2 linked regions of the Homo sapiens genome follow. The protein of the gene in region 2 interacts with the protein of the main gene of each other region in a pairwise test. Each region holds a gene or a part of one and is shown on either strand. Other genes may lie near its edges. The genes, in order: CYB561A3 and AGPAT5.

What was found.
Region 1: the proteins of AGPAT5 (region 2) and CYB561A3 interact in binary tests that used the Homo sapiens proteins (3 or more experiments, as listed by UniProt).

The regions. Positions count from the first base shown.
Region 1 is NC_000011.10:61,360,114-61,364,028, reverse strand, and holds the start of CYB561A3 (lysosomal membrane ascorbate-dependent ferrireductase CYB561A3), read left to right. Parts: upstream 1-2,146; 5' UTR 2,147-2,296; intron 2,297-2,686; exon of another isoform or gene 2,687-3,915. UniProt on the Homo sapiens protein: Transmembrane reductase that uses ascorbate as an electron donor in the cytoplasm and transfers electrons across membranes to reduce iron cations Fe(3+) into Fe(2+) in the lumen of the late endosome and lysosome.
Region 2 is NC_000008.11:6,746,577-6,750,491, reverse strand, and holds part of AGPAT5 (1-acyl-sn-glycerol-3-phosphate acyltransferase epsilon), read right to left. Parts: intron 2,823-3,915; coding exon 2,664-2,822; intron 1-2,663. UniProt on the Homo sapiens protein: Converts 1-acyl-sn-glycerol-3-phosphate (lysophosphatidic acid or LPA) into 1,2-diacyl-sn-glycerol-3-phosphate (phosphatidic acid or PA) by incorporating an acyl moiety at the sn-2 position of the glycerol backbone.

The sequences.
Region 1 (3,915 bases), on a different chromosome or scaffold from region 2:
AGTAGTATTACTGAGAAGAATGACTGCCTGGTCATGTAGTAGCGGTGGTAACAAAAATGGCAGCAAATCCTTATACATTGCTTACAATGTGCCAGGGAGTGTTCTACAAGCACTAACATTATTTAAACCTCACAAGGTAGATGACATAATACATTATTACCTTCCCCATTTTACAGATGAGAAATTTGAGGCCAAGAGAGGTAAAATAATTTGTCCAAGGTCACGTCGTTAGTAAGTGGCAGAGCTAGTATTCAGATGCAGGCTGCACGGGTCCACAGTCTGTGCTCTTAACTACTGGACTAAGCTGTCTCTTACATAATTGATAGACTAGTATTTAACTAGGCAGGAAAAATGCCAGCAAAGAAGTGTGAAGTGCCCTAGGCAGAAAAAGCAGAGAGGAAACAGGGGTCTCCTGGAAAGCTTTATCTTTAGGGTTATGGTTGCAACACAGTGGCAGTTGTTTCTTTTCATCTATTCCAAGACCCACAAGTTGCTCTGGGGGTGTCCTATGACCCGCTGCTGTGCCAAATCTATAAAGAAATTTCAAAATGCTCTGGAGTGTTAGCGATTAAATTAGCATCGGTAAAATGTTTTGCAATTTATAAGCTCTTTTCATATTTCTAACCTTACGTAATCCTACAACCATCTTGAGAAGTAGCCATTACAATGTATATTATCCCCATTTTACACAGAGGCTCCGGAAGGTTAAGGCACCTCCTCCACCTCAGCTGGTGAAGTCCCACCTTATTGGACATATGTTCGCGGTTTCCTCATTCATTAAATTTTAGAGAGAGAGAGAGTGTCTCGCTCTGTCGCCAGGCTGGAGTGCAGTGGCATGATCTTGGCTCACTGCAACCTCCGCCTCTCGGGTTCAAGCGATTCTCCTGCCTCAGCCTCCCAAGTAGCTGGGACTACAGGTGCGTGCCACCACGCCTGGCTAATTTTTTGTATTTTTAGTAGAGACGGGGTTTCACCATGTTAGCCAGGATGGTCTCGATCTCCTGACCTCGTGATCCTCCCGCCTCGGCCTCCCAAAGTGCTGGGATTACAGGCGTGAGCCACTGCGCCCGGCCGCATTAAATAACACTGATAGCTACTACCTAGGTACTCACACCACGATAAACTTGTCAACCAAGATCGTTTCCTTTAATCCTCCCTACAAGTCTGCAAGGTGGGAATTATTCCTATTCTACAGGAAAGGACACAGAAGTCAGAGCTCAAGGCATTCCTCCAGGTCTCAAGTCAGCAGAACCCGGCTTCATAACTGTGACGCCAAACCCGTGCTCTTAACCACTACTCATAGGCCACCATCCAGGGCTGTTTTGAGGATCCGTTATGCAGAAACGCCCATGCCTGTCTCTACGTACGACGATCCCCTCCAGTTTAGGGCAGTGGAGACTCACAAGCTCATGAAGCTCTTTAATTCGTCCACCGCTACCTGCCGCCTTCCCTTTGTACCTAGGGCAGTATTCCTCACGCTTCCCAATCCACTTAAAAACGAGGCTTCCTTGGCAAACAACAACAAAGCATAAAACCCAAGCCCAAAACAACAGCACCAAAAATTCTGACTTCTGGTCACTTAACCCACTCCTCGTCAATCACTCTCACCTCCAAACTCCAACGTCGGTTGTCATGCGGACATCGTCCCGGCTTCCGGAAGCCGGCTTTAAATTCCGGAAGTAAATGGAGGAGGCGGGCCCCGTCTGCGCCGTGCGGCCTGCTAGTCCCCGGCTTTCTCTTCCCGCTCTATGGCCAGTCTGGCCGCCATGTTGGAGCTTTCGCTGTTCGGGGCCCGGCCTGCTCCGGGCCCTCCCAGCGTCGCCGCTAGCTGACTTAGGGCTCCCGCCCACACTGCGCACGGCCTTGCTGAGGGCCGGCTCGTAGTGGGAGGCTTCGCGTTCACCTGAACATTTCCGCCTCCTCTGGATGGGGGATGAGAGGCGGGGCTGATGCATCGCAGCAGTCCTGGACCCTGACTTCGGACTTGGAGAAGAAACGCCGAGGAGGAACGGGAGTTAGGGGGTTAGCAGCTTGGCGCGCTGGGAGCCGGCCACCCCTGGTCTCCGGACTTCACTTCCCAGGAGGCCTCGCGCGCGACTGGAAGTGCTGCGAGCCTATAAGAAGGCGAGGCGGCACCCGCCGCTCTGCTCTGGGGCGGCATTGCCAGCCGGCTGTAGGCATTCAGGGCAGTGTCTTCTGCATCTCCTAGGAACCTCGGGAGCGGCAGCTCCGGCGCCTGGTAGCGAGAGGCGGGTTCCGGAGATCCCGGCCTCACTTCGTCCCACTGTGGTTAGGGGTGAGAAGGATCCCGGGGCTGGGAGTTCAGGGACCTGGGTTCGAATGCTGGTTCCGCTGCTATCTCGCTTCGCACTGTCGCGATCCCCTTGCTCGGCCTCAATTTTCTCTTTTAGAAAGTGGGCACCTTTCTCCGCGCTCTTCCTTCCAACGCGGTGGTTATAAAGGCACGAAAGCTCTTCAGAGGACGCAGAAAGCACCTGGAGCTCCTCACCCCAATTTTCACCCATTGTTAGCTGGCACGAGCACCCAGCAGAGGAGTCAGGGATCACCCCTCGGGTGCCTGGAACGGTTCTTTGGACACCTGAGCCGGACCTAGGCACAGCCTGAAGTCGGGGTCTATAATTATTCCGGTGCTAAGGGGTAACTTGTTCACCTACCTCCTTGGCAGGAATATTGAGCCCTTCACTCCTCATGTTCCGACTTTAACAGAAGCTACCTTTGAGAATAAGGAATCCTCAGAGCTGAGAGGGAGTGGACCCGAATTCCTGTACCAGCTCGGCCACTTACCTTGGCTAAGTCATTTTCTTGTTTTGGGCCCCAGTGTCACAGTGTTTTTGATTTGTAAGATGAGGGTTTAGGGCTTGTATCCTAAATCTGGTCCTCAAGATTCTTGAAGTCCCCCAGTCCATCGGGGAGGGAGAGCAACAAACTGATTTTCTACCCCTTCATTTATTTGTAGTTCTAAATTATAAAAGTAACACTGCAAGAGTTTGGAGTAGAGCCTTTTTCTTTTTCTTTCTTTTTTTTTTTTCTGAGACAGAGTCTCACTCTGTCGCCCAGGCTGGAATGCAGTGGCACGATCTCGGCTCACTGCAACCTCCGCCTCCCGGGTTCAAGCGATTCCCCTGCCTCAGCCTCCCAAGTAGCTGGGATTACAGGCGCCCGCTACCGCGCCCGGCTAATTTTTGTATTTTTAGTAGAGACGGGGTTTCTCCATGTTGGTCAGGCTGGTCTCGAACTCCTGACCTCATGTGATCCGCCCGCCTCGGCTTCCCAAAGTGCTGGGATTACAGGCGTGAGCTACCGCGCCCAGCCTGCGTAGAGCCTTTTTCTAAGACTAAGGGCTGGATGGGAACTAGCATTTCTTACCCCTGGATGTGACCTGTTTTAGCTCAGCCGGGAGAATCCTTTTTCGCAAGAAGTTAATAATATCTTGTGACGTGAAAATTATGTGAAACTCAGACTTCAGTGTCCATAAATAAATATTACTGGAACACAGCCGTGGTGCTCATTTGTTAAGATGTTTATGTGGCTGCTCTTGCATGGGCAGAGTTGATGACATAGTTGTGACAGACCATGTGCTCTACAAAGCCTAGAATATTTACTACCTGGACCTTTACAGAAGAGCTTGCTGACTGCTCCCTTAGAATGGGGCTCTGCAAAGTGAGCACACCCTGGGATCACAGCCCAGCCTGCCCTTAGAACAAATGAGAGGATATTTTCAAGCATTTGCATTGCAGTTTTCACGGTTTTTTTGTTTTGTTTTGTTTTTGAGACAGAGTCTAGCTCTGTCGCCCAGGCTAGAGTGCAGTGGTGCGATCTCGGCTCACTTCAGCCTTCTCCTGGGCTCAAGCCATCCTCCCACCTCAGCCTCCTGAGTAGCTGAGACTACAGGTG
Region 2 (3,915 bases):
TTCAGAAATACTTTATCCTTGACTGAAGTGATAAGATTTTATTTTCTTTATGGTATCTGGGTAAGTCAGAAAGGTCAATCTTTCAAAAGGAGACAATTTGTAATGAATACACATAGGCAGTGACCACCCCAAAGCCACAGTCAGCTCACATGTAGCAGAGGATAAGCAGGGCAGTGGGAGGTTGGAACCCAGGCAATGCAACTCACAGAAGGTTTTGGCTTCCTCAAGGCACTTATGATGCGGCTGGGAAGAGAGAAAGGCAGAGCCCTGTGCTAAGTGCCAGCACTGTAACACACGCCATCAGTGCCACAGCAGTACTGCAAGAGCAGGGGCAGGAGAAGGCACAGTGCTATGCTGGGAAAGGTGCCGCCTGTCACTGTGGGAGAACAGTAGCCTTGGATGAGGGCAACAAAAGAGAGGGTGGTTTCCTGTGGAAAGCAGGATTGGCCACACAAAGCCTTCAACTACTGAATATGCATGGGGTGCAGGAGGACTCAGTCAGCCAGCTTCACCACGGCCGAGGCTTCACGGCACAGCACAGGAGGAAGCGAAGGCAAGGCAGAGATCACGGCTGGAACGCATTCCTCCGATGGCAGGCAACAGAGGCTGGCCTTACCCATGAGCTCTGCTGAACCAAGGGGTTCTTAGACAGGAGGGGACATGATAAAAGTAGCAGCATTTAAACAAGGTTATTATGGGGAGTCTATCTGTTTTTCATTGGTTATAAACACTTGTTTAATCTTAAACTATGTTTAATAAACCAACGACAATCTTGATGAACTGTCTGTTTTCAAATGCAAAAATAGGTAAGTAACTCCTTCGATAGTTTAAAAGAGAAAAATATTAATATGCCACTTTTCTGTAAGAAGGGAGGGATGGTAGAATAAGAAGATATACTTAAATTTGCACATACAACGCACAACAAATTAAGAAAACTGGTTATCGCTAGGAAGGAGAAGGGAAGGCCAGGTAGCAGGGTGGAAAGCAAGGAAGACGTTTCACTGTGCATTTCGTACAGTTTTAATTTTTAAACTGATGCATTACATATTCTAAACATTTACATCTAAAATGAAAAACACCTTAGTTTTCTACTTTACAATTACTCTGTGTTATATACAATTATGAGAACAATCATCTTTCAGATATAAATATGTTACATTTTTTTTTCCTTCGACCATAACCAATTTTTATACTAGCTAGCCCCTGGGCCTCACTCCTCCAGCCTCCCTCCCTAACTTTCTGCAGTAGACAGCTGCTCTCTCTTTCAGTCAAAGAGCTTTTCTTTTAAAACCTGAGTGACCCTCATCTTATCATTATTTAACAGACTAATCATTTGACAACTATAATCTCACTGAACTTTGGAAAAATCCCTAACATCCAAAGATGACACACAGACAGTGTTAGATAATGTAACGGTGCACAGTACTACGTCTAGAAGGCCTACGTGTAAGGTTGGGCAGAATAATTTCTATCCTTGCTCACTTCTGAATGCTTTAATAATGTCTACTTTTATAAATGTTTTGTTGTAGTTAAAAATATTACTCTATAAAATTTCCAAGGCACATCAACTTCAGACGAATGCTTCAGGTGAGGGTTTCCATGTAAAACGTGCTGGAGGCTCATATTTTGAACATCTGCCCTCAGTAGATCCTACTGATACAAGCACACTGACATACATAGTGGCTCAACCCCAAACAGCTGATGAGGTAAAAACACAAAGCTCATTTGGGAGGCCGAGGTGCGTGGATCACCTGAGGTAAGGAGTTTGAGACCAGCCTGGCCAACAAGGTGAAATCGCATATCTACTAAAAATACAAATATTAGTCATGCATGGTGGCACACGCATGTAGTTCCAGCTACTCAGGAGGCTGAGGCAGGAGAATCGTGTGAACGTGGGAGGCGGAGGTTGCAGTGAGCCAAGATTGCGCCACTGCACTCCAGCCTGGGCGACAGAGCGAAACTCTTGTCTCAAAACAAAAAACGAAAAACAAAAAAACCCCATGAAGCCTAGTGTTCTCTCTCAACCCCAGCTCAAACAGATATTTTGAAAAGGAAACAGAAACTCCACACACTTCCCTGTTTGCCTATTTCCATGTTTACATTTCTCTAACAGCTAACACTATGTTTGGTTAGTTTAACTAAGTTATCCTGCTCACTTAAAATTCTATTTTTTTCTGGTTATATCTGACAATAGCTCAAAGGTTCTTAAAACCTAACATGTTTGGGGAAAAAAAAAGGTCACACTTAACTGCATTTCTTCTTGTCACAATGACACCCAAATTTAATAAATATTTTACGAAAAATACAGCAAAAGGGCAGCACTGACTAATAACGTGCACTCAGTACTGCCGGGCGTGCTCCTTCTTCACGTCTTCCTCCCTTTTACAGAGCTTTCCTTTTAAGTGTGAACTTTGAGTAGAAAGAGGCTGGATTAATGATAATTGGTGAGTCCACAGGACTCACACGACAGCCAAGAAATACCACACTTTGCAGGACTAATGAAATCTCCACTGTTACATCTTAATAACATCTTGAAAAATATACCGGGTAAATGTAATGAAGGAAAAAAGTACACTTAACCTACTTTGTAAAACTGAATTCTACATAAACATGTGCACTGTATATACCGTGTACAGGCATTTCAGGTGCGTGAACACACTTACCCGTCATGGTCGGTGACTCTCTTCGCTGCCCTCCATCGTCTTTCCCTTCATAAACCACCGTAACATCATAAATTGCATCTAAATAATTCTTCATGCAATCAAAAGCAACGTGAGTTGCCTTTATTCGTGGTGTTAGCACATGTTTTAATACTGCAAGGCCTAGAAGTCAATTCAGTGCCGTCATTAATTAGTTACAAAACACCTCCACAATATACTGTTTAACATCTAAATTATTTTTAAATTCCCTCAAACACACACAACAGAATCTATTAATTCCACAACCTCATATATTTAGGGCTCTAAGTTTAGAAAGCACTCTCACTTGCCTTTTTCTGTTTAAATCAATATTCATTTGCTATATATTGATCAAATATCTACATGTACAAGTCACCGTGTTGGAAGTTTATGGCCTAGCGGAAACGCTTCAATCTAGTAGACCCCGGCAAGGGTAAATATTAGTGCCCTCGCTTCTGGCCACTGAACAAAGGTGATAGCATCTTGCCCATGGTGACTCAAGATTTCCTAGAAATACAGTCACACAGCACATGGCCTCCTGTTTCTGGCTTCTTTCGCTCAGCATGGATCTGAGGTTCATCTGTGTGGCTGCAGGACTCAGTGCTTCATTCCTTTTTATGGCTGAATAGTTAGTATTCCACTGTGTGAACAGATCACATTTTGTTTACCTATTAATTGCTTCATGGACATTTGGGTTGCATCCATACTTTGGCTATTATGAATAATGCTGCTATGAACATTCATAGGAATTGCATATGAAGGCTGCAGGTGAACAAGCTTTTGTATGAACATACGATTTCAATCCTCTTGGGTATATCTGACATATTTTTAAAAGGTTCTTTAGCTGGGGGACTACTGCAATTATCCAGAACAAATCCCATTCATTAGGTTCCTACTAGGGTTAAGGATTTGTTCTTCTCTCCTTCCTATTACCTCCCTTTTCCTTGATTAAAATATTTACTGACAATTTAACAGAAAACAGTAGCTCTCAATAAGTGACATGAAAATAGACTATAAAAAACTAGTCTAGATTTTCTACTGGCCTCTCTGGAGGGAAAGTAGCTGAGTAAGGAAGAACAGCTATTACATGGTGGGACTGTCCCACACAAGAGGTTTTAAAATGCAGGGTGGTGTGGGAAAGACAAAGATTCCCACAAGCACGTATCTGACTTTAGTCCCCAGGGCAGGGGCAGTTAAATTGATTCACAAACTTGCAACAAAAATCTCAATCGCACAC